Linked DNA regions of Homo sapiens. The protein of the gene in region 3 purifies or fractionates together with the protein of the main gene of each other region. This does not show direct contact. Each region holds a gene or a part of one and is shown on either strand. Other genes may lie near its edges. The genes, in order: PBRM1, BCL7A and PHF10.

Region 1 (8,671 bases), on a different chromosome or scaffold from region 3:
TAGGGTGCAAGCTTTTTTTGAGATGAGTTTCACTGTCACCCAGGCTGGAGTGCAGTGGCATGATTATAGTTCACTGCAGCCTTGAACTCTTGGGCTCAAGCGATCCTCCTGCCTCAGCCTCCCAGGTAGCTGGGACTAGCTAGCTACCATGCTTGGCTAATTTTTAAATTTTTTGTAGACACAGGGTCTTGCTGTGTTGACCAGGCTGGTCTCAAAATCCTGGGCTCAAGCAGTGCTCCCACCTCAGCCTCCCAAAGTGTTGGGATTACAGGCATGAGCTACTGTGCCCAGCTAAGGTATATAAGCTTTTAATTTTTCCTCAAAAGTATTTTTAACTCTCCTACTAGGAATGACTCTATCCTACTTATCAGACACTGAACTATTTAAGGGCGCCAGGAGTAGTGGCTCATGTCTATAATCCCAGCACTTTGGGAGGCTGAGGTAGGAGGATTACTTGAGCCCAGGAGTTCAAGACTAGCCTGGGCAACGTGGTGAAACCCTGTCTCTACAAAAAGTACAAAAAATTAGCCAGGCCTGGTGGTGTGCACCTGTAGTCCCAGCTATTTGGGAGGCTGAGGTGGGAGAATCACCTGAGCCAGATCAAGACTGCAGTAAGTATGATCCCAGCACTGCACTCTAACCTGGGCAATGGAGTGAGACCCTGTCTCCAAAAAAAAAAAAAAAAAAAGCCGTGAAAAGAATTGCAGTACCACCAACTGTAAACTACAGGGCATAAATTTTAATAAATTTCAAGAACTATACTTATTGCAGAATGCTGAAAACCTGATTAGCATTTATTACTAGAACTCTACCTCCACTGTGGTGTTGGGGAAAGAATATGGGCTTTGGAGTGTCACTTTATTATCTGAATTTATAGAGAAAGTACCTAATAATAGTACAACAGTATTACAGCCCCCCCCAAAAAAAGAAAGAAAAAAAGTAGTGAATAAATGAGTTATTTTTGTTCATCTAGCAGTTCTATTTTGGAAGTCTTACCTACATCCCTGATGTGATATTTAATCTCCATTTTGTGTGTGTGTTTAAATTTTTCACACTGAATTAACTCTCTTTAAAGAAATATACTCTTAGCTGGGCGCGGTGGCTCACGCCTGTAATCCTAGCACTTTGGGAGGCCGAGGCAGGCGGATCACGACATCAGGAGATCAAGACCATCCTGGCTAACACAGTGAAACCCCATCTCTACTAAAAACACAAAAAATTAGCCGGGCGTGGTGCTGGGCGCCTGTAGTCCCAGCTACTCAGGAGGCTAAGGCAGGAGAATGGCGTGAACGACAACAACAAAAATATATATATATACGCACACACACACTCTTGGACCCTGTTGTTTTCCAAAGTAATTTATCTCCTAGTAAAGCATGTTAGTGCTTAGTCTTCACACGAGTATTAAATCTGGAGTTTCTTGTCTCATTTATGTGCTATCTGCAAGATGTAAATACCATGAAATAGCCAAAACAGGGAAAAGGGACAGTCCATTAATTTGTTTAGTTCTGAACTTTCATTCAGGGACCTAACATACTTCCAGGCTAAAATGGAACAGAGTAGGCTGGGCGCAGTGGCTCACACCTGTAACCTTAGCACTTTGGGAGGCTGAGGCAGGTGGATCACTTGAGGCCAGGAGTTCAAAACCAGCCTAGCCAATATGGAGAAACCCTGTCTCTACTAAAAATTCAAAAATTAGCCAGGCATGGTGGCGCATGCTGCAGTGAGCCAAGGTTGCACCACTGCACTCCAGCCTGGGTGACAGAGTGAGGTTCCGTCTCAAAAGAAAAAAAAAAAAGGAACAGAATAATAGCAATATTTGTTTGCTCAGTGTTCAGATGGGATGTCTAGCTATACATCAATGATTGTTCAAAATATGCTCAGGGGCACAGATGCCGGTACTATCCTAAATTCAGGAGAACAGAACCACAGGGATTTGCAAAGTGATATTAGAGGAAAACAGTTGGTTGCTTTTACCAACACTTTCTATTAAAAGCATGGTCATGTTTTAAGAGTTTATAAAGATGTTAAAGACACCTGGGCCACCTGTTTCTTCTGGCCACAGACAAGCTATTTGAAGTGGGCTATACTGCTTACATGCTTTCCTCACTTTCCGCCCTCAGTAATTCTCCAATTTTAATTTCAACCTGCATTTCTGCCCATGCTGAGGACATGTAGGAATTCCTTGACTGCCAGCCTGAGGCGTGGCGTGGGGCACTTCAGTCTGCAGTCTGACTACATTTGGCTCTGTGTTAATGCAGCCCGAGCCCTGAACCAGAGGTCTGGACACTGACTTTCATCTCCATCTGTGGAGCTTTGTTCTCTTAAATTGGCAGTCACATACAACCTTGTCAGCATGAAATCAGGGCTTGCAGGAGTTAAATCTGCTTGAAACATCTGACACCACTTTAACAGAACAACCAAACCTGGTTAATCCAAATCACTTTGCAAACTCTGTATTTATTTGGATTAAAAAGCTTTAGATGAACAACAAAAAAAAGATACATACATGTTATAAGACTAGTTACCACGTAAACCTCAGATGATATGATACAGAAATTAGAATAAACCAAGTTTTAATCAGGTATGAAAACATTCAAGCTCAAAATCATCAACACCAATTTGGGGATTTTACAGAAATAGGTGCCCCTCTCAATTCTTCCTCATAGGAAGGGGAGAGTGGCTTAAAAAAAAAACAACAACCAAAACAGTTAAAGGCCTTTTAAATCAGTTGGCTGACAAACATACTGTTTTAAACCTACAGGTTCCCCTCAGTCCCCCCGTTTGCAATATAAACAATTCTTCTCCACAGGAACTTACATTTTGAAAACATTTAGGCCATTATACTTTCTAAGCCACATTACTACAGTTCCTAAAACTTATGAAAAAAAGGTGTATAGTTTACTTGTACTTTCTTGAGTCAATTTTTTTTTCTTTTTTGAAGATGGCTGACCTCAAATCTTATATCCTAAATATTAACGATATCCCCCAAGTTAATATACAGAAAAACATGATTCTAAAATAAATACACAGGCTTTTTAAAAAAAACTTAATTAGGGCCTGTCTAGTGATGCCCTGGGCCGGTGCTGCACTGCTTTAGGGAAGCCCCTGGCTGGATCTATGTTTCCTATAGCACCTCTAGGCACTGGGAAGGAGCCTGGAGGAGAGCTCTGGCTTCTAATGACCCACGTGGCCCCCAGTGAAAAATTTTTTTAGAGGCTCCCCAAAGAAGTCTCATCCAGACCTTAAGGGAAATAAAATGAATGCATGAAATAAATAAATAATTTAACCACAACTAAATTTCATGTTCTTTGGTGTAATTCAAGGATGTCTAGAAACAAAATAATCTGATTGCATTATACAGTCCATGATGATTCAATTGCCCAAATAGCCAGGAATTGAAGATTTATCTGACTCACTTTAACAATAAGGTACTGACACACTACTGCAATACATTTTTTTAAATTCAATATTATTTAAAATACTTGATGCAAATTCAAATCCAGTGGTTGACTAAAGGCAATTAAGTTAAAGGGCCTCCCATATTTAAAGTATCTAGATACAAGAGACTTTTTTCCATTCTACACTCTTTTGCCCTCATGATTTAATAAGTACAGTAATTAAACATCTGGGTACTGATTCATAGCAGATTAAAAGGAAAAAAGCATCCTCTGAGATTAACTCTCTCAGATTATAAACAGCAGTGGAAGCTCTACCACAATGGCAATCACCCAGTTACTATAAAGCAGGTTTCAAAAACATGCCGCCAAGTGAAACAATGTTCCTACTGTCTGCCATCCTATGCTGCCTTCAAATGTTTATTGTAGGGTCATATAAGAAAGACAGGGTCACCAAACCCAAGTGTTTGGGATCTGTAATGGTCTTTCTAGTAAGCGTTTTATTAAATTATGATTCCCTTCTCCTGTAATTCAAAAGCACAAGCTAAATTTAAAAAATATTTTAGAAAGTATTAAATTTCTGGTTGAGAATTATAACAACATTGAAACTTAAAAGAAAAAATACATCTGATAATAAGGAAATAAGGAATACTAAAACATACTTGTATATGAAGGCAATCAATCTACTTGTTCACAATTATGCTTCTTATACAGCTCATATCTAGTTCCATACTCTCTTACCCATGTTAGGTTAGGTGTTATGTTTAAAAATAAATCACCTCCATGCATACCTTAATGCTTTCTTCAAGACGAACTTCAATGTTTTTCAATGTAACAGGTTTAAAATTTTAAATCATCTGAAATTTATAGGCATAAATTGTGAATTCATTATAAATAGATCAAAATATCCTTAAACGTACCTGCCTAGATTAAACATACCTCAGGGTTGTGCACGTGTTCTGCAAAAATCACTGACACCATAGTCTAACTCACAGATGTCTAACTCAGCACAATTGAAAAAGTGCTTTTTCCCCTCCTGGTGTCCAGGAGGTACATTAGCTGCAGACAGATGCACAGCACTGATTACATATTTCTGTAGTGAGCCTCTGAGTTAATAGAGCAAATGTGCTGTGTCTATTAAACATCTAAAACCTAAATAACCACCTTTCAAAGAAAGCACTTCATCTGTAAGAAACAGCTTTTGCAGAAAGTGGCTTAAGATATTCAGGCACATGAAACAAACACAAGTATACTCCCCTCTCTAAGATGTAAACTAGGACAAACTTCACATTTCATTATCAATTTAAACTAATCTGTAAACTCTTGTGTGTGTGTGTTTTTTTTCATTTTGTTCTTTTATATATATATATAAAAAAACCCAAAACCAAGAAAACAAAAACCCCAAGCCAAGACAAAAACCTCTAATGGTTTCAGTTCCATGGCAACAAGTAAAAAGATAAAACTCCAAGTCTACATATACAACCAATTATGAAACTGGTTTTAAACGAAGGAAACATATGCAAAAAAATCTTTGTGTATTTGATAAAGTCAACTTAATATAACAAACAAATTGAAATAGCTTATTAAAAGTGTCCGTATATAAAAATGGCCTTGTGATGTACAGTAAAATGCAATAAAAATTATCCTCCTTTGTTCCTTCCCCCCACCCCCAGTAACTAAAATGGCTACTGATCCACAACTCTTTATGCTTCTATATAAAAGAAACGTAATGATGTGATTAAACATTTTCTAGGTTGTATGCTTGGCGAATGTTGAGGGTGTCCCGGAGCATCAAATCTCGAAGGCGCCAGAGGGCATCTGCCATGGTGGTGTGGGCCCCTTTGCTTTTCAGCCAGTGAGAGGGTAGGCGGCTCTCCTGTTCTTTCGACAAATGGACGTCGCGTCTTCGAGCTGAAAATTAAAGTACAGAGAGACAGAAATTAGAATTTTAAGTTGGCAAAATTTCCCTCAGTTCTAAGGTCTGACGAACTTATTAAAACACAAAACATTGAATATTTATTAAATATTATGAATTTTAACTGCAGAATATTTCCAGGCACATTTCTTATATCATTTTACTAGGCACTAAAAGATTTGATCATAAATTTTTTTTTTTTTTTGACATCGAGTCTCGCTCTGTCGCCCTCGCTGGAGTGCAGTGGCGCGATCTCAGCTCACTGCAACCTCTACCTCCTGGGTTCAAGCGATTCTCCTGCCTCAGGCTCCAGAGTAGCTGGGATTACAGGAATCTGCCACCAAGCCTGGCTGATTTTTCTATTTTTAGTAGAGACAGGTTTCACCATGTTGGCCAGGCTGGTCTTGAACTCCTGACCTCAGGTGATCTGCCTACCTTGGCCTCCCAAAGTGCTGGGATTACAGGTGTGAGCCACTGCACCCGGCCTGATCATTATTTTTTTGTAGGCATCCCTGATATTTAATAATTACTTCAATGTTAACAAAAATTCCTAAAAAGGTAAACATGTGAAGAAAGGGAAAATATACCTTCTACTCTAAAGAAATGAAATGAGATGACCAAAGTTGGTTTAGAAATCAAGAACAAGTAGAAACTTCCAAACTTCTCTCCAGAAACTACACAAGTACTTTAGTACATACTGAAAATACATAAGTATGTTGAACTAAATGAATAGCCTAATCGGTTTCTAATATTTTTTTCCTTTTGTTAAACTGAGGTAAAATAGTTTTTTTTTTTTTTTTAGACAGAGTCTTATTCTGTCACCCAGGCTGGAGTGCAGTGGTGCGATCTTGGCTCACTGCAACCTCCACCTCCGGGTTCAAATGATTCTCGTGCCTCAGCCTCCCAAGTAGCTGGGATTACAGACACCAGACACCACGCCCAGCTAATTTTTGTATTTTTAGTAGAGATGGGATTTCACCATGTTGGCCAGGATGGTCTTGATCTCCTGACCTCAAGTGATCTGCCCGCTTCAGCCTCCCAAAGTGCTGGGATTACAGGCGTGAGCCACCGCTCCTGGCCCTCATCTGGCTAATTTTTAATTTTTTTGTAGAGACGGGGTTTTGCCATGTTGTCCAGGCTGGTCTCAAACTCCTGAACTCAATCGATCTGTCCACTTCAGCCTCCCAAAGTGGGAGCCACCGTGCCTGGCCAATAATTTTTAATTTACCCAATGCATCTATACTAATGTCCAAATGCCTGAAAAACAAAACAAAACAAAACAAAACAACAAACAAAAAACAATGTACTTAAAAAGATGGCAGTGATGTTTATGAGAAAACTAGGCTTTGAAATTTGGCAAAAAAAACCACAACAACACTTTTAGGCAGGGCGCTGTGACTCATGCCTATAATCCCAGCTCTTTGGGAGGCTGAGGTGAATAGATCACCTGAGGTCAGGAGTTCGAGACCAGCCTGGCCAAAACGGCGAAACCCCATCTCTACTAAAGATAAAAAAATTAGCTGGGCGTGGTGCTGAGCACCTGTAATTCCAGCTGCTCAGGAGGCTAAGACACAAGAATCGCTTGAACCTGGGGGTCGGAGGTTGCAGTAAGTCGAGATTGTACCACTGCACTCCAGCCTGGGCGACAGAGTGAGACTGTCTCAAAAAAAAAAAAACAACCCAAAAACCATTTTCAGGCCAGGCACAGTGGCTCACGCCTGTAATCCCAGCACTTTGAGAGGCCGAGGCAGGTGGATCACTTGAGGTCAAGAGTTTGAGACCAGCCTGGCTGATATGGTGAAACCCCATCTCTACTAAAAATATAAACATTAGCCAGGTGTGGTGGCATGTGCCTGTAATCCCAGCTACTGGGGAGGCTGAGGCAGAAGAATCAGTTGAACCTGGAAGGCGGAGACTGCAGTGAGCCAAGATCGCGCCACTGCACTCCAGCCTAGGCAACAGAGTGAGACCCTGTCTCAAAAACAAAACAAAACAAAACAAACCATTTTCAGTGTGTTACGTAAACATGCAAAGAAACTCCAAACCATTTATGAAATATATAATTTATTTTAATTGTATAAGAAAAAGGGGTGTTTATTGTATGATATACTATGCTAACAGCAGTAAGACAGCTTTGAGGAAGCATGTATTTCACAAAGGCTTATTTAGAAGGAATCTTACCTGCCAGTGTCTGATCCCACTTGCTAATGCTGTTGGACTCCGCACTGAGTCCTTCAATGTATTTCAGGTAGGCCTCTGAGTGAAGAAGCCGCTGGGTCTTTGGTGGGGGAGCTACAAACATGGGTGTTGTTGGCTGCTGTATGACAGGGGGTCCAGCTGGATGTGGGCCGGGATATGGAGGTGGTGCCTGCTGCCCTGGAGGCCCCAAAACTCCCACCTGAAAGAGCACAGGACCACATGGTGAGGCAAAAAGAGACTCTGCACATGTTCTGAGAAGGATAACTCGAATTCTGTCAAGTCCTAGAAAATCAAACTGGGAGGCTCACCTGTTGTCCATATGGACTTCCACCTGGTGCTGGAGTCCCTACCATAGGGGCCACTCCTTGGTTCATCACACCTATAATTCAGAATGCAATGGCACAGTTAGAGGCTCTGGGTTGAAATGACTGAAAAACTACTGTCTGATAAGAAATGATGCCATTCATAATTCAAACCTATGTACCTCTGCCCTTGAATCTTTGTGGCTAGGAATCTTAAGCACCCCAATAGGATTTGAATAGAAAGTTGTTTTGTTTCTAGGTACTTAAAGTATAATACTAGAACAATCTGTCAGATGTACATCAATTATGGCTTAGAAATGATTTGAACCTTGCATAAAATTCTAGTATTTCTCTAGGTAAGCTATTGTCAGAATATACCTCTACATTCAAGGTGTTTTTCTTCTGACAACACATTCTCCTGCAACTGAAGCCTGTATTTAATTTAAGCAGGAATGGCACTGGAATCAGGCTCAGCAGTAAGCAATGTGCTAGGACAGCAGGGACACAAGGGAAGAGGCTGTGGAAGTGCATAGTTAAATGAGCTTTGTGAAGGCTGAAGGCACAGCCTTGCTATCCCCTCCCAGACCATCAGCAGCTGGTTCTAACTGGAGTCACTAGTGCTGGCAGGGAGAGAACACTTCCATCTGATAGAGTAGCACTCTGAAAAGGAATCATCTGAAGTGAAGTAACCTTGTTGCTATTGCTTTATATGCAAAATGACAAAGGAACAGAGAGACTTCATGGCCCTACTAGATTTGTACTATGTCCCTGATAATAATTTTGTAAGCTTCCCTCAGTGAATGCTCACGAGCAATTGTTGTCTCACAGGCACAGCTGATAATAATGAGATGTCCTAA
Region 2 (10,624 bases), on a different chromosome or scaffold from region 3:
GGCTGTCTTGTTCTGGGGAAGGAAGGCCAGCGAACTTCCCCACGTGCTCAAATCGACCTGTCTGGAAAACACAGTCACCAGCTCCAAGGGCAGGGGGACTGGCAGGTTTCTGAACGGGCTTTAGAAAAGCACAGTGGCGGTGGCTCATGCCTGTAATCCTAGCACTTTGGGAGGCTGAGGCAGGCAAATCACAAGGTCAGGAGTTCGAGACCAGCCTGGCCAACATGGTGAAACCCTGTCTCTACTAAAAATACAAACAATGGGTGCGGTGGCTCACGCTTGTAATCCCAGCACTTTGGGAGGCTGAGGTGGGCGGATCACCTGAGGTTGGGAGTTCGAGACTAGCCTGACCAACATGGAGAAGCCCTGTCTCTACTAAAAAATTTACAAAATTAGCCAGGCGTGGGGGCGCGTGCCTGTAATCCCAGCTAGTCGGGAGGCTGAGGCAGGAGAATCGCTTGAACTCAGGAGGCAGAGGTTGCGGTGAGCGGAGATTGCGCCATTGCACTCCAGCCTGGGCAACAAGAGTGAAACTATCTCAAAAAAGAAAAAAGATACAAAAAATTAGCTGGGTGTAGTGGCGGGCACCTGTAATCCCAGCTGCTCAGGAGGCTGAGGCAGGAGAATCGCTTGAACCTAGGAGGCAGAAGCTGCAGTGAGCCGAGATCGCACCACTGCACTCCAGCCCAGGCAACAGGGTGAGACTCCGTCTCAAAAAAAGAAAAAAGAAACGCACAGTGGGAGCCAGGCACAGTGGCTCACGCCTGTAATCCCAGCACTTTGGGAGGCTGGTGTGGGCGGGTCACTTGAGGCCAGGAGTTCAAGACCAGCCTGGCCAACATGGCAAAACCCCATCTCTACTAAAAATATAAAAATTAGCTGGGCATGATGGCGTGTGCCTGTAATCCCAGCTACTCAGGAGGCTGAGGCAAGAAAATCGCTTGAATCTGGGAGGCGGAGGCTGCAGTGAGCTAAGATCAGGCCACTGCACTCCAGCCTGGGCAAAGGAGCGAGACTCTGCCTCAAAAAAAAAAAAAAAAAAAAAAAAAAAAGAGCAGTGGGGCTTTGTTGCTGGTTAATGTGTCAAGAAAGCCCCCCCAACCAGCCATACAATCATAGTTGGGTTATGTTTCATTTTCAGAAATAGATATGTGAGCTGGGATGTGGCCTGTCTCAGTGGCATTCCTTAGCATCCCCTTTCCCTCTGGGGACTGGGGAGACCCCACGCCCGACTCAGGACTGAGGTTGGATTACAGACGCAGAATTACACCAGAGGGCCTTTTCGAGCTGAGGCCAGGACCCCACCTGGGTTCACATCCTAACTCTCCCTGCACCTTCCCCTGGCTGTGTGATCTTGGGCTATTTGTTTAACCTCTAGCTTTGGGGTTTGTTTAGTTTTAATCTGTAGAATGGGGATGGTAATGCCTACTTCATAAACTCACTGTGAGGATTAAATTAAATAATCTCTTAAAAACCTTGGCATGGGACCAAGCACAGTGGCTCACACCTGTAATCCCAGCACTTTGGGAGGCCGAGTTAGGAGGATCACTTGAGCCCAGGAGTTTGAGACCAGCCTGGGCAACACAGGGAGACCTCATCTCTACAAAAAAAACAATAGGTGGTTCGTATCTATAGTCCCAGCATTCTGGGAGGCCAAGGCGGGCAGATCATGAGGTTGGGAGATCGAGACCATCCTGGCTAACACGGTGAAACCCCATCTCTACTAAAAATACAAAAAAATTAGCCAGGCGTGGTGGCTGGTGCCTGTAGTCCCAGCTACTCGGGAGGCTGAGGCAAGAGAATGGCGTGAACCTGGGAGGTGGAGCTTTCAGTGAGCCAAGATCACGCCACTGCACTACAGCCTGGGCGACAGAGCAAGACTCAGTCTAAAAAAAAATAGATTAAAAAAAAAAATAATAATAATAATAAATTTAAATTAGCAGGTTGTGGTGATGCGCACCTATAGTCACAGCTACTCTGGAGGCTGAGGATCATTTGAACCTGGGAGTTGGAGGCTGCAGTGAACAGTAATTGCACCACTGCATTCCACTCTGGGCAACAGAGCAAGACCCCATCTCTTAAATATATATATATATATAATATATATATTATATATATTATATAATATAATATATAATATAATTATAGTAAATATTTTATTTTGGGCCAGGTGTGGTGGCTCATGCCTGTCATCCCAGCACTTTAGGAGGCCGAGATGGGAGGATCATTTGAAGTCAGGAGTTGGAGACCAGCCTGGTCTCTATGGTAAAATCCCATCTCTACTAAAAATACAAAAATTATTGGGTGTGGTGGCACACGCCTGTAATCCCAGCTACTTGGGAGGCTGAGGCAGGAGAATCACTTGAACCTGGAGGCAAAGGTTGCAGTGAGCTGAGATCATGCCACTGCATTCCAGCCTGGGCGACAGAGCAAGACTCCATAAAAAAAAAAAATTATTTTACTGTATTCAAAAATAGAGACAGGGTCTTGCTATGTTGCCCAGGCTGTTTCCAAACTCCTGAGTTCAAGCAATCCTCCTCCCTCAACCTCCCAAAGTGCTGGGAGTATAGGCATGATCCACTGTGCCCAGCCTATAATAAAAATTTTAAAAACCTTGGCATGTTAACAGCTCACATTTATGAAACCGTCACAATGTGCCAAGTATTGTGCTAAGCCCGTTACATCATTGCCTCATTTGAGTCTAATAACCAACCGCATTTTACAGATGGAGAAACTAAGGCCCAGTGAGGTGAAGTAACATGCATGGTTAGCAAGTTCATAACTTCCAGTGCCATTGATGGCATTTGAGGTTGGTTCTTTGAAGACAGAATCCAGGTTTGTGGCTGGCCGTGGTGGCTCACACCCATAATCCTAGGACTTTGGGAGGCCAAGTTGTGAGGATCGTTTAAGGTCAGGAGTTGGAGAGCAGCCTGGCCAAACAATGGTGAAACCCCATCTCTACTAAAAATACAAAAATTAGCCGGGCATGGTGGTGGGCACCTGTAATCCCAGCTACTCGGGAGGCTGAGGCAGGAAAATCCCTTGAATCGGGAAGGGGAGGTTGCAGTGAGCCAAGATTGCACCACTGCACTCCAGCCTGGGCAAGAGAGTGAGGCCGTGTCTCCAAAAAAAAAAAAAAAAAACCAAAAGATCCAGATTTGTGACCTGGATAAACTCTCCAGAAAAATCTAGGATGCTGAACAAACCAGGTCCCCAGACACAGGTGCCCTGTTGACTTTCTGATTTTCATTTTAGTGCACGTGCAGCCGAAAGCCAGTCAGACTGCAGAGTGTGTAAATGGGAAGGTCAGGGAAAGGTGTGGGCCGGGCAAGTTTTCTGGAAGGCTTCAAGTGGGAGGATGGGTACAGCAGGGGATGAAGGAGAGGGCGGTGCCCCGGGCCCTTTAGTCCACAAGACTCAGCTGAAGTTAGCCCAAGTATCAGGGTCACGCTGTTACCAGGCTACCAGGCTAGACCAGACGTTAAACATTAGTGCTCATTGTCATTCATTAACAGAGCCTCAGGAACCTACGGGGCCAGCCTCTTGCGCGTGTGCTTGCCATAGGAAGGAAGTCTAGTTTTTCTCAAGGGAGAAATCGGGGAGCACACATCCTTCTTTTTTTTTTTTAAGTCCCAGAATTCACAAGAGGATGCTTTTGTGTAACGAGCACCCCAGAGTACAGTTAAAATCAGATCCAGGTTACCCGTGTGGGGCCGCCTGACTGCCTGGTGCTTCCTCGGCAGGTTGAGGTAGAGGAGGGGCGTGGGGCTGGGAGTTGGGCAGATGGGTCCGGCAAGTGGCTCTGCTGCTCCCAGCCTCAGTTTCCCCCTCCGGAAAGTGAAGGTGGTAACGGTGCCTTTCCAACGGGTTGTGGGGAGGATTCCACGAGGTGTCCATAAATGCTTCTGCCCAGTGCCTGGCATGGTGGCAGGTGCCCAGGTCTGTTGGGGTGTCTCTGTCTCTTTCTCATGTTTACAAAAGTGGCCATCGCCCCGGGTGCAGCATGGCCCCCAGAAAGGCTGCTTTGGTTTTGAAACCTCCACTTGGGTCTCTGCTGTTTAAAACGACTCTCCTAGGTTGGGCACAGTGGCTCAGGCCTATGATCTCAGTGCTTTGGGAGGCCAAGACAGGAGGATCACTTGAGCCCAGGGGTCCAAGACAGCCTGGGCAACATAGTGAGACCCCATCTCTACAAAAAACTTAAAAATTAGCCAGATGCAGTGGCACATGCCTGTGGCCCCAGCTACTCAGGAGGCAGAGGCAGGAGGATGGCTTGAGCCTAGGAGTTCGAGGCTGCAGTGAGCTATGATTGTGCTGCTGTACTCCAGCCTGGGCAACAGAGCAAGACCCTGTCTCTAAAAATAAAAAATACATAAATGGCTGGGTGTGGTGGCTTACTCCTGTAATCCCAGCACTTTGGGAGGTTGAAGCGGGCAGATCACCTGAGGTCAGGAGTTCAAGAGCAAGCCTGACCAACATGGCGAAACCCCGTCTCTACTAAAAAATAATAAAAACAAAAGTTAACTGGGCATGTTGGTGCATGCCTGTAATCCCAGCTACCTGGGAGGCTGAGGCATGAGAATCGCTTGAACCAGGAGGTGGAGATTATAGTGAGCCGAGATCGCGCCACCGCACTCCAGCCTGGGTGACAGACTCCATCTCAAAAAAATAAATAGAGTGACTCTGTGCCTGAGAAGGGGGTGCAGGACAAGGGGAGGTGCAGCCCGGGCCCCAGCTCTGCCCCCAGCCCAACTGTAAATGCCATTGCCCAATTACCCCTTCTCTTTCTTCTTTGTATTGTGAAGGGTTTTGTTGTCAAGAACAGTAGAGAGAGGAATACGATCCCCCTGTACACTCCACCTTGATTTTCATGAACACGGTGCCACATTTGTCTCATCTATTTTTTCAATGTGTTAGATTTTTGTAATTAAAATATAATTCACATATAAAAAATACACAGCTAGTGGCCGGGTGTGATGGCTCACACCTGTAATCCCAGCACTTTGGTAGGCTGAGGTGGGCAGATCACCTGAGGCCAAGAGTTCGAGACCAGGCTGGCCAACATGGAGAAACCCGTCTCTACTAAAAAATACAAAACTCAGCCAGGTATGGTGGCAGGCGCCTGTAATCTACTTGGGAGGCTGAGGCAGGAGTATTGCTTGAACCCAGGAGGTGGAGGTTGCAGCGAGCCCAGATCGCGCCATTGCACTCCAATTTGGGCGACAGAGCAAGACTCCATCTCAAAAAAAAAAAAAAAAAGTGTAAAAGTTCAGGGAGTCCTGACAGTGGCCGGCAGCCTGCACTGAAGTATTTTCTGGTAAATTTCCCTGCCTCATGACATTCAAGTCTGCACCTAAACGTCATAGCATGCATTGCTGAAAATATGACGTTTCTACATACCCACTGTCCCATGATCACTTCTAACTAAATTAACAACAGTTCCTTAATAGCTTTTAAAACCCAGACCATATTCAAATTCCCCAATTGTTCCAAAGTGTTACAGCTGGCACGTTTGAAACAGGATCCAAATCATTTCCATACATCATATTTAGTCGAGTCTCCTAGCTTTCTTTATTCTAAAGTCATCTCCCCTCCCCCAACTTTTTTTTTTTTTTAAATATGATACTGACTTTAAGGGAGTGGACCACGTGTCCCGTGGAATATGCCACCTCCCGCTGTCTCTCTCTCCCTTTTATTTCCTATCAAGTGGAACTCAGCTCCAGGCTGGATGCAGTCAGACAGAACGCCTTGGCAATCCCGCCTCACGGACCATGCCGTGTCTTCTGTATCGCTTCCCTGCCAGACACACAAGACGTCTGGTTTCTACACCCAGAATGAGGCCTCAAATGTCCCCCCAGGATTTTAAATATGTTAGGCCACCATCCCCAGCTGGCTGCCTCCAGACGCAGGGTACAGTTGGCTCAGTGTGGGGAAGGTCAGGCCAGTGCCGGAATTCTTTGCCTCTCTGGACACATGGGATGGCTGTGGTGCTTGGGTGGGTGGGTGGGTGGGGGTCAGGGGGCGGGAGTGAGCTCAGGGGTCCCAGGAGGAGGCGTATCCAGTATCCAGACCCCTACCACACGGCCGGGTGCAGTGGCTCAACGCCTGTAATCCCACCACTTTGGGAGGCCGAGGCAGGAGGATTACCTGAGGTCAGGAGTTCGAGACGGGTCTGGCCAACATGGTGAAACCCCATCTCTACTAAAAATACAAAATTAGCCAGGCGTGGTGGCAAGTACCTGTAATCCCAGCTACTCGGGAGGTGGAGGCAGTGAGCCAAGATTGCACCACGGTCCTCCAGCCTGGTTGACAGAGCGAGATCCGTCTCAAAAAAAAAAAAAACGGTAACCAGACCCCTCCCCGGGAGAGCTGCCATGGGGTTCCGGGCATTGAGGCACAGGGATGCTGAGCCCTCTGACCTACCCGTCCTTGGCAGCTGTGGGATTTCATCCTGTGGTTCTGTTCCCACCCCCTACAGACGATAACAGCAACCAGAGCTCCATCGCAGATGCCTCCCCCATCAAACAGGAGAACAGCAGCAACTCCAGCCCCGCTCCAGAGCCCAACTCGGCTGTGCCCAGCGACGGCACCGAGGCCAAGGTGGATGAGGCCCAGGCTGATGGGAAGGAGCACCCAGGAGCTGAAGGTATGTGGCCTCTGGAGGTGGGGCTCTGACGGCCTCCCTGTAACCGGCCTTCAGGCAGTCTGTGGCTAGGTGTTCCAGGAGGCCCTGTCATGTGCCAGCCCCAGCAAGGAGACAGTAAAGAGAGGTGACACCTGGAGTACATGGTCTCGTGGGGGAATTAAAAAAATCAGACAGGCCAGGTGCAGTGGCTCATGCCTGTAATCCCTGCACTTTAGGAGGCCAAGGTGTGAGGACTGCTTGAGCCTAGGAGTTCAAGACCAGCCTGGGCAACATAGCAAGACCTCATCTCTACCAAAAAAAAAAAAATAGCCAAGTGTGGTGGCACACACCTGTGATCCAGCTACTCAGGAGGCCGAGGTCGGAGGATCACTTGAGCACAGGAGGTCAAGACTACTACAGTGAGCCATGATCATGCCTCCGCACTCCAGCCTGGGTGACAATAAGACCCTGTCTCAATAATAAGTAAATAAATAAAAATCAAACAATTGGCCAGGCATGGTGGCTCACACCTATAATCCTAATGCTTTGGAAGGCTGAAGCAGGAGGATCACTTGAGGCCAAGAGTTTGAGACCAGCCTGGATAGCATAGCAAGACCCTGTCTCTACAAAAAAATGCTTTAAGATGAGCTGGGCATGGTGGCATGTGCCTGTGGTCCCAGCTACTCAAGAGGCTGAGGCGGGAGTATCCCTTGAGCTCAGGAGTTGGAGGCTGCAGTGAGCCGTGATCACACAACTGAACTCCAGCCTGGGTGACAGAGTGAGACCCTGGCTCAAAATATAATTATATTAATAAATTTTAAATGTATTTAAAAATCAGACAACCTAGTATTAGGAAGATAAGTGTGGCAGAGAATTATAAAGTAGGAAAGGGGTGGGGGGTCTTGCTGAATGACCTGGAGAGTTGCAGTTTTAAATGGGGTGGTCGGGGCGGCCTTTGAATAAGACAAGGCTCAAACTGGGCGACTGAGCAAGCCATGTGGGGATCTGGGAGGAGAGCAGTGTGGGCAGAGGTAAGAGTGAGTGAGGAGCTGGAAAATAAGATGGGCACCAGGCGCGGTGGCTCACGCCTGTAATCCCAGCACTTTGGGAGGCCGAGGCAGGCGGATCACTTGAGGTCAGGAGTTCAAGACCAGCCTGGCCAACACGGTGAAACCCTGTCTCTACTAAAAATACAAAAATTAGCAGAGTGTGGTGGCATGTGCCTGTAATTCCAGCTAGTCAGGAGGCTGAGGCAAGAGAATCACTTGAACCCAGGAGGCGGAGGTTGCAGTGAGCCGAAATTGTGCCATTGCACTCCAGTCTGGGCGATAGAGCAAGACTCTGTCTCAGAAAAATTTTAAAAAGTTAATAATAATACGGGGTCAGACAGCAGGCAGCGCCTCAGGTGTGGGGGGCTCGTAAGGCCACTGCCTGGCCTGGGTTTTCATGGTAAGACGGGAGCCACTGGGGGCTTGGGTGACATGATCTGAAGGATTAAGAACAGATGATGGGGTGATTGTGTGAGAGTGTGTGTGTGATTGTGTGAATGTGTACACAAATATTTGTGTGTGTTTATTTTGAGTCTCTACAGAAAAATTAAAAGAATGGCATAATACTGTCCTATATATCCACCTGCTGAACTTGGCAATTGTTGGCTTTTGGGTTTCTTTTGCTTTGTATTTTTTCTGGGACCATTTGAAAGTAAGTTATAGATCTCAGGACATTTCATCCCTAAACATGTCAGCACGTGTCTTTTAAAAATAAAGACATTCTGGGCTGGGCACAGTAGCTTATGCTTATAATCTCAGCACTTTGGGAGGCTGAGGCAGGAGGATCTTTTGAGCCCAGGAGTTCAAGACCACCCTAGGCAAGAAGACGAAACCCCGTCTCTACAAAAAATATAAAAATGAGCCCGGCATGGTGGCATGCGCCTGTAGTCCCAGGAGGATCGACTGAACCTGAGAGGTCGAGGCTGCAGTGAGCCATGATTGCACCACTCCAGCCTGGGTAACAGGGTGAGACCTTGCTAAAAAAAAAAAAAAAAAAAAAAAGGCATTCTCTTACAGATTTACAAATACCGTTACTGCATCTAAGAAAATGAGCAGCATTCCGGATGGTCTAACATGGAGGTATATTTTGAAGGTGAGGGGAGAGCCTGTGTTGGGCAGTACATAGGGGTGAGTGCGGACCTGAGGGCAACTCTGGGCACCTGGAGGGACAGCAGTGGCTGAGCGGGTCTGGGGAGGGCAGGCCAGGTCTGGAGCGCCTTGCACACCCATGAGGAGCTGGCGAGCATGGAATGTGGAATGGCAAATGTGACCAGCCTGCAGCTAGGGCCACCCCAGGGCTCAGGGCGTGTGTGTCCTGGGAGCAGCCAGTGTGGTTCTAGGAGAAAGGCTGTCCCCTGCTGCAGAGCTGATCCGCACCCCTGTGCAAGGAGGCTCTGGGCTGGCGCCAGGGCCCCAGTCATAGCTGCACTCTGCTTCCTGCACCCCAAGAACCCATAGGTCAGCAGGGGAGACAGACACTGGAACGAAGGACTCATTGGCAGAGATGCAGACAGACTCTATCCAGCCCGTGGTGTGAGAATCTGGCTATACAGAACCCTGCAGTATCATTTTTTAAATTTGAATGTGATGTCAAAATTTAAAAATTGAGCTTAAAACAGGATTGATTTCTAGCTTCTTTTGAAGAATCAGCTTTGACAATACCGGGCCTGCTCTTCCCTGGGGCAGTTACCAGCTGAAGCAGAAGAGACCCTTCCCTGTTGTCTCTAAACCAAGGCCAAAGGGCGCTTGCCTTGTGTTACCTCATGGCCACTGTTGTTTTTCTTATTGTAGATTTTAAAAGGAAAATTAAGATATTTCTTGGGTTTTTTTTTTTTTTTTCCAGACGGAGTCTTGCTCTGTCGCCCAGGCTGGAGTGCAATGACGTGATCTCGGCTCACTGCAACCTCCGCCTCCCAGGTTCAAGTGATTCTCTTGCCTCAGACTCGTGAGTAGCTGGGTTTACAGGCGTGCACCACCACGCCCGGCTAATTTTTGTATTTTTAGTAGAGATGGGGTTTCACCATGTTGGCCAGGCTGTTCTCAATCTCCTGACCTCGGGATCCACCCACCTCGGCCTCCTAAAGTGCTGGGATTACAGGTGTGAACCACCACGCCTGGACTATTTCTTGGTTTTTGTTTGTTTGTTTGAAATGGGGTCTTGGCCGGGCGCAGTGGCTCATGCCTGTAATCCCCGCACTTTGGGAGGCTGAGGCGGGCGGATCACAAGGTCAGGAGATTGAGACCATCCTGGCTAACATGGTGAAACCCCGTCTCTACTAAAAATACAAAAAAATTATCCGGGCATGGTATTGGGCGCCTGTAGTCCCGGCTACTCGGGAGGCTGAGGCAGGAGAATGGTGTGAACTCGGGAGGCGGAGCTTGTGTTGAGCCGAGATCGCACCACTGCACTCCAGCCTGGGCGACAGAGCGAGAATCCGTCTCAGAAAAAAAAAAAGAAAAAAAGAAATGGGATCTCACTGTTGCCCAGGCTGGAGTGCAGTGGTACAATCTCCGCTCACTGCAGCCTTGAACTGCTGGGCTCAGGTGATCCTCCTGCCTCAGTCTCCCAAGTAACTGGGACTACAGACATGCACCACCATGCCCTGGTAATGTTTATAGTTTTTTGTACAGACGGGGTGTTGCTATGTTGCCCAGGCTGGTCTTGAACTTCTGGGCTCCAGTGATCCTCCCACTTTGGCCTCCCAAAGTGCTGAGATTACAGATGTGAACCACCACACCCAGCCAAGATGTTTCTTGAAGCTATTTCTCTATCAGAAGTGGAGGTGGAAAAGTGGAAAAGAAAAAGGCTGGAGAAGGCTTTTTTTTTTTTTTTTTTTTTGAGACGGAGTTTCGCTCTTGTTGCCCAGGCTGGAGTGCAATGGTGCAACCTTGGTTCACCACAACCTCCACCTCCCGCGTTCAAGCGATTCTCCTGCCTCAGCCTCCAGAG
Region 3 (11,028 bases):
TATAAAATATATTTAAAAAGCTCCTACAACAAAAAAAACCCCAAATAAAAAATGGACAAAGAACTTGAATAGACATGTCTCCAAAGAAGCTATACAAATGGCCAAGCAGATGAAAAGATGTTCAATATCAGTAGGCATTATGAAAATGCAAATCAAAATCACAATAAAATATCACTCCACACCTTTTAGGGTAACTATTATTTTAAAAAATGAAAAATAACAAATTGGTGAGAAATATGAAGAAACTGGAAACTGTGAATTGCTGGTAGGAATGTAAATTGGTGTGCAGCCCCTATGGAAAACAGTTTGGCAGCTTCTCAAAAAATTAAACATAGGATTACCATATAATCCAGCTACTCCACTCCTAGATAAACATCCAAAAAAACTGAAAACACAAACTCTGAACACCAATGCTCACTGCAGCATTATTCACCTTGGCCAGAAGGTGGAAACCCAAATGCCCATCAACATCTGAATGGATAAACAAAATCAGTATATACATAAAATGGAGTATTATTCAGCCTTAAAAACAGAAAAAAAGTCTGACATATGCTACAAAGATGAACCTTGAAGATATTCAAAGTTCTAAGAGAAATAAGCCAGCCACAAAAGGACAAATATTTTATGGTTCCACTTATATGAAGTAACTAAGTAGTCGTATTCACGGAAATAGAAAGTAGAATGATGGTTGCAAGGCGCTAAATAGAGGGAGAAAGGGAGGTTATTGCTTAATGGTTATAAAGTTTGGGGTAGTGAAAGTTTTGGAAATGGATGGTGGTAATGGCTGCACAACACTGTGAATGTAACTGATGCCAATGAATTTCACACTTAAAAATTGTTAAAATGATTAATTTTATGTATGTATGTATTTTACTATCATAAAATTGCTTTTTAATTACACTCAGTAGCAAGACCAACTTTGATGGCACATTATAGAACAGGAAGAAAATATTCTACAATTTTTAATAATTGCCTTTGCCAGAGCTGGGGGAAAGGGAAGAGGATGTTAAGGCAAAGAGGAACATCACAAAAAATATTAATAACCGATAAAATGACAGTACCCAAGATCTTGACTTGAAGTTTCACAACTCCTAGAACTATCTCCTGAGCCCATTCGCCTCCTTTTGGATGGCTGGGTCCCATCATTTGAATTATCTTCATTATCATCCTATACATTTAAAAGATTCAAAAATAATAATTAGAGAAAGAATAAAAGAACAGTAAGTCTCAATAAATGAAAGACTGTCTAAGGACAACTAGTCATACAAGTATTAACTTCATATTATAATTAAAAGGGTCCAAGAGTTTGGCATGAGCAAGACCTGGAATAAAATTTAAAACTGATCTTCAATCCAATCCAAATAAGAACATTTTCAATGAACCCGTAAATGCAAATCTGCTTTGGTTTCTGCTCTTCATAAACATATCAAACTGCTGCATCACTCTAGGATTAAAGCAAACTCTCCTACCCAAGCTCAGGGGGAAAAAAATGTATGGATCATTTACAGTTCTCAATTCAACTTGAAGCCGGTTCATAGGACTATTTTAATTGACTACTTTAGGCATTTATGTCCCTGTGAAAAGGGGACATATGAGACCGAAAACAATTCTAACTATTCACTCTTCCTCTTACACTGCTAAAATTTAGCAAAAATATACCCTAATAAGGGTCATCAATCTATAATATAGCAGCACACACACCAAAAAAAGAAGCTTGAGAGGGGGAGGGGAATTTTTTTTTTAAAGAAGATTATATATTTTTAATGTAATCCATTATGTGGCAAGAACATCAAGGTTATAAATTCAACCATTTCATTCAGAAAAAGTATCAGATGTTAGGAAATTGATTTATTTACTTATTAGCCAAGGCTTAAAGTCTAAAAATCATAATTTTTTAATGTAATATAGCTTTCAACGCTAATCCAATTTTGCTAAATACTATAGTCCTCTTGCTACATATTAAAATGAAAGCAATCCTGCAAAAGAATATAAAGAGGCAATATGGTATAGTGGCCAGGCATGCCAGAGCTGGACGGCCTGGGTTCTCACTGGGCACTGTCCCTCACTAGCTGAGTAGGTTATTCTCTGTGAGCATCTCCTTATCCGAAAATTTGAGACTATAATAGTGCCCCATTACATGGCTAATTCAATGATTAAACGAGCTACTATATTAAAAGTACTTAGAACAAGGACTGGCGAGTTATCTGATAAATATTAGTTAAAATGATGATTATGATGATAATAAAGTCTCAAATGTCTCTAGCTCCTAGGAATTAACTGGTTCTTTTCCAAATAGTAAAATATATATTCTTTTTCAGTCCTTATAAAATAAGCATTTCATTAAAGAGCTTTGCATAGTCTAAATCTACTCTCTGAAAATTTGCATAAGTATCTGCATACAACTGCAACACTGCATATTCAATACTTTCAACATAACTCATTTTAAACATTCCAGTATTTTTTCTATTTTACTGGTGAGCATTTTAAGGATTTTTATATCCTTAAACTTAAAAACATTTTCCTTTAGCTAAAAAGTTGAGACACTCAAAAATATACAAAAATAAAGTTAAAAATGCAAAGTGCTCAAAAAAGCTGAGACTACAATTTCATCAAGTGTTTTAAATTACTACTACAAATTCTAGGCAAAGGCATTATTATATAAAGTGAGCATCTGGGCAGCGGGCCTTTTTCTTGAGGGAGGTAGTAACAGCAATATTGTTCCCAATACATGACGGAATAAGGTAAGAATTTCCGTGTAACCGCAATACTGATACAGAGGCCCATGTTTTCAAAGACTCCCAAACATACTAAATCAGAGATGTGCCTTCCAGAGTTACAGGTGGTTTCCAACTACAGATCAGATGAATTTCTATGCATCACATCCTTCCTAGGGCTCAGGGGTCAAGAATGCACTCAGGGGGCACTGGCTCAGTGCCCTCCAGGTGCCGGGCCAGACGTCAAATGCTGGAAGTGCAAGGATGTGCATTCAGAGTCTTACAATCTAGTTACTTCCATTGACGACAGCCTTTGAGGAACCTTCAAAATGAGTCTCACAGCACGGTGGACGTGCGCAACGGGAAAAGCTCCCAAGCAGGCGCAGCCCGGCTAGGCTGCTACAGGACGGCTTCCCCTGCCAACGCGCACACGGCACACCGCGCACCGCACGAAGGCTGGCTGGCTCTGCAGCATTCCAGTTCCCACCGCCTTCTAATTTCAATCCAATTTCAAGCTTCCAGGCTTTTAAAACATCATTCCTCCCTTCCAACTTTCTGTCACAAACTGCTAGCCTAACTTTAGAACCAAAACGTTTTGATGCGTGACACTACTGCTCATCTCCATTTTCTCCACAAGCACCAATTTCTTTTCACCTCCTCAAGCAGTAAAAAGTTTTAACAGACTTCCGCTGAAAACATCCGGACGCTTGCGTATTAACTTAGTTATTACAGTAAGTTCACTGAGTGTGTTGATTTTCCATATCGTTCGCCACTCGGTTTTTGCAGTAAGCGTTCAAACACTTCGGCAAACTATGCGCGGAATGAACGCTGAGCGAACGCGCGCTTCTGCAGGCCCCTCCGAGGCCAACTCTCTCGGCCCCGGGCGCGTTCCGTCCCACGGCTGGCCTAGGAGGAGGCGTTTTGGGGACAAGCTTGTCAAGCAGGGCCGGCTGCCAACTTCGGGGAAGCCGCGCCGCGTCCCCCGCCCGCCCGCACTTGTTGCTCGCTAGAGGCCGCGGGCTCACCTCGGGGCCCCGCCTCGCCGACCACCCCCGGTCTCAGGCGCGGCGCCCGGCCTGGGCCCACGCCCCCGAGACGCTGGGCGGCCGCCGGTGGGACTGGGCCCACGCCCCGGCACCCAGGCCCGGGACGGGGTCAGGGTCGGGTCGCACCGGCCGCTTCCTCACCTTCGGGGACTGCGCTCCGGGGGTGGCTGGGTCGCTGTCGCACGGCCGCGGGGACAGCGCAGCCCCGGGCCCGGCCGCCGCCGCCATCAGCCCGAGCGCCCCGCGCCGCCGCCGCCGCCGTCGCCTCCGCCTTGTCCCGGCCGCCGCCGCCGCTGCCGCCGCCGCCGCCGCCGCCGCCGCGCGGGCCCCCCGCCGCCCCGGCCCCGCCCCCTCCGCCCGCCCGCCCGGGGGCCGGCCCCTGCCGCCGCGCGCCCCGCGGCCCGCCAGCGCCGCCGCCACCGCCATGGCCGTCGCCAGCGCGCCGCCCGCGCGGGAGGGCGCCAAAGGCTGGGAGGGCGCGGGGCTGCGGGCCGGAATGGAGGAGGCCCAGCGGCGGCGGCGCTTCTCACGTCAGCCCAACCCGCCCGGCCGCGGCCACCGCCTCAGCACCGTTGCCCCCCACAGCTCCGCCGCTGGCCTCAGCGCCGCCGCGACTCCCTTCAGCCCCGCCACTCGCTCGCCTCAGCCCCGCCGCTCGCTCGCCTCAGCCCCGCGGCCGCCTCAGCCCCGCCGCTCGCCTCAGCCCCGCCGCTCGCCTCAGCCCCGCCGCTCCCCTCAGCCCCGCGGCCGCCTCAGCCCCGCCGCCGCCTGGCTCCCCACGGCCCGGCGTTGTACTCGGCCGCGGCTCCCCCCAGCCCCCGGCGCGCCCCACCTCCCGCCCGCCCTCCGGCCCGCCCCGGCCCGGCACGTCGCCACTTGGCGCGCTCGCAGCCGCCCCCTCCCCGCGGCCCCCGGCCCGGCCCCTCCGCGCGTCACCCTCGTTCCCTCCCTCTCTCCGCGCCCCCGCCGCGCCCCTCCCCGCCCCTCCCGGGGGTCCCCGCCCCGCCCCCTCTCTGCCGGGGGTCGCCCTGCCCGGAGCAGTCGCGCGGAGACTGCGCGGCCTCCGCCTCTACGCGCTCGCGGTCGCCGCTCCTCTCCCGCCTTTGTTCTCGGGTCGCCCCTCTCGCTGGTGGCGCTCCGAGAGAGCAGCGGAGCCACCTGCCCAGGCCACGCTTCCCCGAGCATCCGCAGCTGCACCCGGGGGCTGTCGGCGCCCGCCCCGGAGCGTGCGGGAGGCACAGCGGGAAGAAGTCGCTGAGATTCGGCCCTCGTGGCTTTGCGTGCCCGCGTGGTTGATGCCTCCGCCGAGAACGCGGTCGGCCGGGAGCCGGGGAGGAGCGTGGACGCCGGCCTGGCAGGTACCCCCGCGAGAACGTGGGAGCCGGTGTATTTCAGCTGCATTTATTACTGATCTCGGGCTGCACCAGGGCACTTGTAGGACCGCACTAAAAACAGCGGAAAGTGAGGAGCCAAGCCTGGGTCCGGGGCGGCCCGCCGTACAGCTGGCCTCACGGATTCCACTGCCTGCGCCTGCAGATGACTTGTTCTGGAGAGTAGAGAATGTTCTCGGATTTAAAGTACAATCCGGTTTCCTTTCCATTCATTATAGTTGCCTACACTCAACAAACAAAAGTTGGGAAAGATAAAGGGATTATTCTAGCGCGTCACATTGACAAACACCGACGTTAACACGCTCAGTCCAGCCTGACTCACTTGCCTCAGGTCAGAGAGGTCACCACTGACGACGCCGGGCCCTCAAGCCGATCCTAATCCAGCTTGGTTCTCTCAGCCTCAGCCAGACCATCCGTTCTTGCCTCTGTCCCACCACGTGCAGGTGTAAGCTTCCGCCGCACTTCTTGTCTGAATCTGCCAAGAAGAAACTGCATCTTTCAGCTAAATTCTTTTCACTGATCAGGGTAGAGTTTAGCGGTTTTTTTTTTAAGAAAAAAAACAAAAACAAAAAAAAACTCTTAAGCTATTTGGTACTCCTCTCCCTCCGGGATTCTGTCTCTAGATTGTGAAAGCTGTCAGAGAATGGAGTCAGGGAAAGCCGTGATGGGAAAGTTCTCACTAATAATTGCCTGATATAAAGAATTAGCACAAAAGACTGCCAAAACCACAACCTTGCACAAAGGCCACAAAACTACACAAAAAAATGCTTCAAGGACATTTGCGCAGCAACTGCCTGTCCAACCTTGGACTGGCCATCCCCTTTGTTACTGATCTTTGTAGCCAAGGATAATTGTTTCAAAACAACTTACGTAATCCTCCTCGTTTTTCCTTTTAAACCCCTTATCTTCCTTTACCTCCCTGAATACACCTATAGTTTACTATGACACCATATTCTACATTGCAATGCCCACTTTCAAATAAATTTGTCATGTTTGGCAAACCTGTCTGTTATTTAGGTTGACAAGATCAAATGCAAATTTATTCTGGAGTCAACAAATAACTGATTCAGTCTTCCAATGTGCAAGGCAAAGAAGAATATTAAGGAGACACTGTATAGATTAGATCCCTGCCTATAGGCAGCTTCAACACTAATACAATATGGTACGAATATATAATTGTACTTTAAGGCAGCTTAGGTGGGAAAACAACTAGCAACTAAAAAAAAAAATGGAGTTTACTACCAACTAAAAAAAATGGAGGTTTCAAGGTTGACCTAGAATTTGAAAACTGCTTTAAAGACAGGTAAGAAAGACACAGGTAGATGTGCAATGGAAGTAGAAATTGGGTTTCAAGCCCCAAACAGGCTGAGGGGTGGGAAAATAGACATATTCAGGTACATCAATCGTTCCAGTTTGGCATAAGAATGAGATAAATGAAGATGGATTCTAGGAGTTAAGGATGAAATATGTAGGGAGGTACTATGATGTAATGGAGAGAACAAAGATTTCAAGTTAAGACTTTGGTTTAAATCCCAGCTGTGCCTCTTATTAGCTGTGTGATCAAAGGTAAATTAGTTAATCTCTCTGACCCTCCATTTCCTCATTTGTATGATAACAATAATGTCCAATTATTCCACAAATATTTTATGGCAAGCCAAGTATTAACTAAGAACTATGTTAAATGATGAAGATATAAAAAAACCATTTATTCATTCATTCATCAAATGAATGCCTTACTGTTTACTAAGTTACACCCTGAGTTAGGCCCTGGAAATACTGATAAGGGGGAAAAAAGCATGAAACCGTATGAGACCACTTAGATTATGCAGATATACGTGAAAATAAGGCCCAAGACCAAGAAGTCCAAAGGTACTCAACTTGTGGAAGTAAGATAGAGAAGGAAAAAAAAGAAAACTAAGTGTAAAGTACTGTAAACTGAAAGGAGAGAGTGTTTTAAAAGAGGGACTGGTCAGCTCTCCTAATGGAGAAGTTAGTAAGGTGGCAGAGAAGAATACATTGTATTTATCAACCTGGAGGTAATTAACTGTCTTGACTGTTTCAAGCTATTTCAGCAAAGTGGTGGTTTCAGAAACTAAATTAAAGCAGATTAAGGGAGGAATGGAAGCCTAGGAATTGGAGCCAGAGTATAGACAACTCTTCTGTGTAGTTTTATTATAAAAAGTAATGGAGAAAGAGAGTATCTGGAGAGGTGGTAGGGATGTTTTTAAGATGGAAGACATTAGCACATGTTGGTATACTGAAAAGAATGACTGAGTAGGAAGGCAGAAAACCATGATTGAGCAGAGAGAGGAAATGCTACTGGAAGGCAGCTTGTGAGAAGGCAAGGAAAAATGGGCTCCAGAGCACAGGTATTAGACAGGAAGCAGAATCCACCCAATTTAACAGGAAAGACAGAAGGTGGTCGCAGCTGCAAGCAGGTGAGTGGAAAACTTGAAGGTTTGTTTTTTTGTTTTTTTGTTTTTTTTTGAGACAGAGACTCACTCTGTTGCCCAGGTTGGAGTGCAGTGGCCTGATCTCGGCTCACTGCAAGCTCCACCTCCTGGGTTCACGCCATTCTCCTGCCTCAGCCTCCCAAGTAGCTGGGACTACAGGTGCCCGCTACCACACCTGGCTAATTTTTTGTATTTTTAGTAGAGACGGAGTTTCACCATGTTAGCCAGGATGGTCTCGATCTCCTGACCTCATGATCTGCCTGCCTCGGCCTCCCAAAGTGCTGGGATTACAGGCGTGAGCCACTGCACCCAGCCAACTTGAAGGATTTTTATTTCTGATATATTTTCTTTCCTTCATGAAATATAAAGGGAAAATCAGCTGACAGTTGTGTAGGGGAGAGAGATACAGAAGATCTGAGGAAGAAGGAGGTGTGTCAGCAGGAAAGCAAAGTTTCCAGGATGCCAAGTGTTTTGCCTTCTTGAGAGTTATGGTCATGAATTTAAAGTGAAACTACTCGGTCTGGCTTTGTCAGGTTCTCAGTCAAGTTTACCTACTTGGATTCAGGCTTGGACAAAGTGGATAATGGGGTTCATTCAGGAAGGGGTTTTCCAGGTGAGGAAGAGGGACAAAGAAATTGAAGTCTGTTTGTAAAGGAGTGATTATAATGATGAGCCATGATATCTAAGCTGGACAAGGTAGGAAATTTGAGGGCTATAAATGGTGAAAAAAGCCAATGAACTGGAGATTTCAATAAGATTAGAGAATGGCTGTCTTCGGGGTACTAGAGGTGGTGAGCTGGAAGGACAGGAAATGATTGCATGAGAATAACTTGCTTGAAATAAAGATTTCAGAAGTCATACTAATATTGGCGACAGCAAAGTCTAGAGGGGTAAAAGGCAACTGAATGTGAGTTGGTTAAGGAATTAGAAAGCATACAGCCAGTCCTAGCTTGGCATGGTAGAACATGACTAGAAAAATGACCATGGAAGTTGAAATTGTGCAAAGTGATCTTAATAATCAAAGAGAAAAATTAAAATTGTTCTGTGACACTTAAGAACTTTTGTTGAAACATCAAAAACTCTGTTACTGCTACGTAGACATATCAGGAATTTTTTAAATTGTAAAACTAATTTATTTAGTATGCCATAATTTAAAACATGAGAAACATGGAGAATCAGTCTTTATTCTTTGTGAAAAACAAAAGAAAACAAAACAACTTACCAATAGTAGTGTGAACTGTTTGCCTCTTCTCATACTATTAATCTTCTGTCTTGAAAAATTGTTATTCTGCATTCTAAGTTTAGATTAGCTTCCAACATTTTATCTTTGCATTTTCAATCTTGTGAACTATTCTCAGGAATTCTTTAATACAAAGTGTATCAGCAACACTTCCTGTGGACCTCTTCACCCTTTTGTCACAGCCACTTTAATCTCTTAACATTAATCAATTCATAAAATGATGAAACCAGAATTTACTGGCTGAATAAGGTTTTTATTTAGTCTCTTTGTAATTATCATTTTCTTTCAACAAGACAACCAACTTCAACACTTCACCCGAATGCTAGCCAGACTGATTGGGAAAAAATTTAAATTTATTACAGTCTTCAGTCAAAAGCAGGAAAAAGTCTTTATATCGGCCATAATTTGCATTCTCTTTCTAGTGCAATTTAAACCAAAAGATCCTGAAGCAACTTACCTTGTTTTTTCTACTTACTGAACTTTTTCTCTATGGCTTCTATGGTGCCTTTTGTGTAGGCCGAGGTCTCATCCTATCTTTGCTTTGCTTTTGTCATTTTCAAATTCCCTAATCACATCTAATTTCATTTCTGCATTATTATTTTTTTATTTGCTGTACTTTCATCTTTCTTGGCCAATTCCCTTTTAATGATCCATTTTTGTAAAATATCATGTTAGTTTATCACTGGGAATCAAGGAAGCTATACAACTACATGCTTTGCTGCTTGTAAACTGAAAAACTGAGTAACAGTTGTGCAGTGACCAATAACTGACAGACTCTGAAAGAAGGATTGTGATATCTGCTATGGACTGAATGTTTGTGCCTTACCTGCAAATTCATAAATTGAAGCCCTAATCCCCAGTGTGATGGTATTTGGAAGTGAGAACTTTGGGAGGTGATTAGATTTACATGAGGTCACGAGAGCAGAGTCCCCATGATGGGGATTAATATCCTTTCAAAAAGAAGAAGAGATACAAGATTCATATTCCTTCTCTTTCTCTCTCCCCTGCCCCCACCCCCACCAAGGAAAGACCAGGTAAGGACATAACCAGGAAGAGGGCCCTCACCAAGAACCACCATGTTGGCACCCTGATCTCAGACTTTCAGCCTCTAGAACCTCAATAAAAAATATTTGTTTAAGCAACCCAGTCTAAGGCATTTAATTATATTAGCCCAAGCTAAGACAGTGCCCATCTGTTATTTACATAGTGATCTGTGAACTGAAGAGCTAGCTGTGAATTTTCTTCTTTATGCAATTCCTCACATAAAGTTAATATGCAATCATAATTGAAATGTGAACCACCTTGTTGGGGAACTGGTATTATTTAACTAAACCACAGTAAATGAAATTTGCTTGAATATTCTGAAAGTGAAAATTGCACAGTGCATACTAGAACTGTGCAAAGTGAGGACTGCCTTGTTTTGGATGGCTCATCTATGTGGATGTTGAAGTCCCAAGGAAAGATGACAGGAGTTGGGTGGGGATGAAGATTATATAATCCAGTAGCTCAAGTCTTCAAGTGATGGGGAGGAATAAGCCAGGAACTACAGGCAGCAGAAATCAACAGGTAAAAGATTATATATTCAGATAGCATACATTTTCAGGAGCCAGAATTTTTTTTAAGGTCAAAGGGGTTACCTACGCTAACTCCTGGCTGTAAGTCATCAAAGATTGAGAGGAAAAAAACAGCCTTCATTTGAGAGGGCTGCAGTGGCACTCCTCTTCAGGGAAAAGTCAGATTGCTTTTAAGGAAAGGAACTCAAAATGCATGTGGAAGAGAGGTTGGGAATATAGAGGAGCCTGATGAACCATATAAAGAAAGTTCCGGCCGGGCGCGGTGGCTCACGCCTGTAATCCCAGCACTTTGGGAGGCCGAGGCGGGCGGATGGATCACGAAGTCAGGAGATCGAGACCATCCTGGCTAACACAGTGAAACCCCATCTCTACTAAAAATACAAAAAATTAGCCGGGCATGGTGGCAGGCGCCTGTAGTCCCAGCTACTCAGGAGGCTGAGGCATGAGAATGGTGTGAACCTGGGAGGTGGAGCTTGCAGTGAGCCGATGGACTGAAGGAAATGTTTATGTGATATTTTATGTGAGTGATCTTCACAGTGGGCAAGTGGTTCAAAAGTTATGTATCTGAATACTTAGCATGATAGTCTAGTGGGGTCAGGTGATACTACCC

Evidence for each region.
Region 1: the proteins of PHF10 (region 3) and PBRM1 purify together in Homo sapiens (affinity purification with mass spectrometry; 2 studies listed by BioGRID and IntAct, with this or other methods). This does not show direct contact.
Region 2: the proteins of PHF10 (region 3) and BCL7A purify together in Homo sapiens (affinity purification with mass spectrometry; 4 studies listed by BioGRID and IntAct, with this or other methods). This does not show direct contact.

The regions. Positions count from the first base shown.
Region 1 is NC_000003.12:52,542,927-52,551,597, forward strand, and holds the end of PBRM1 (protein polybromo-1), read right to left. Parts: intron 7,892-8,671; coding exon 7,821-7,891; intron 7,712-7,820; coding exon 7,495-7,711; coding exon of another isoform or gene 7,475-7,494; exon of another isoform or gene 7,365-7,474; intron 5,310-7,364; coding exon 5,137-5,309; 3' UTR 2,441-5,136; downstream 1-2,440. UniProt on the Homo sapiens protein: Involved in transcriptional activation and repression of select genes by chromatin remodeling (alteration of DNA-nucleosome topology). Required for the stability of the SWI/SNF chromatin remodeling complex SWI/SNF-B (PBAF).
Region 2 is NC_000012.12:122,037,408-122,048,031, forward strand, and holds part of BCL7A (B-cell CLL/lymphoma 7 protein family member A), read left to right. Parts: intron 1-6,478; coding exon 6,479-6,646; intron 6,647-10,624.
Region 3 is NC_000006.12:169,719,944-169,730,971, forward strand, and holds the start of PHF10 (PHD finger protein 10), read right to left. Parts: upstream 4,558-11,028; 5' UTR 3,989-4,557; coding exon 3,902-3,988; intron 1,169-3,901; coding exon 1,062-1,168; intron 1-1,061. UniProt on the Homo sapiens protein: Involved in transcription activity regulation by chromatin remodeling. Belongs to the neural progenitors-specific chromatin remodeling complex (npBAF complex) and is required for the proliferation of neural progenitors.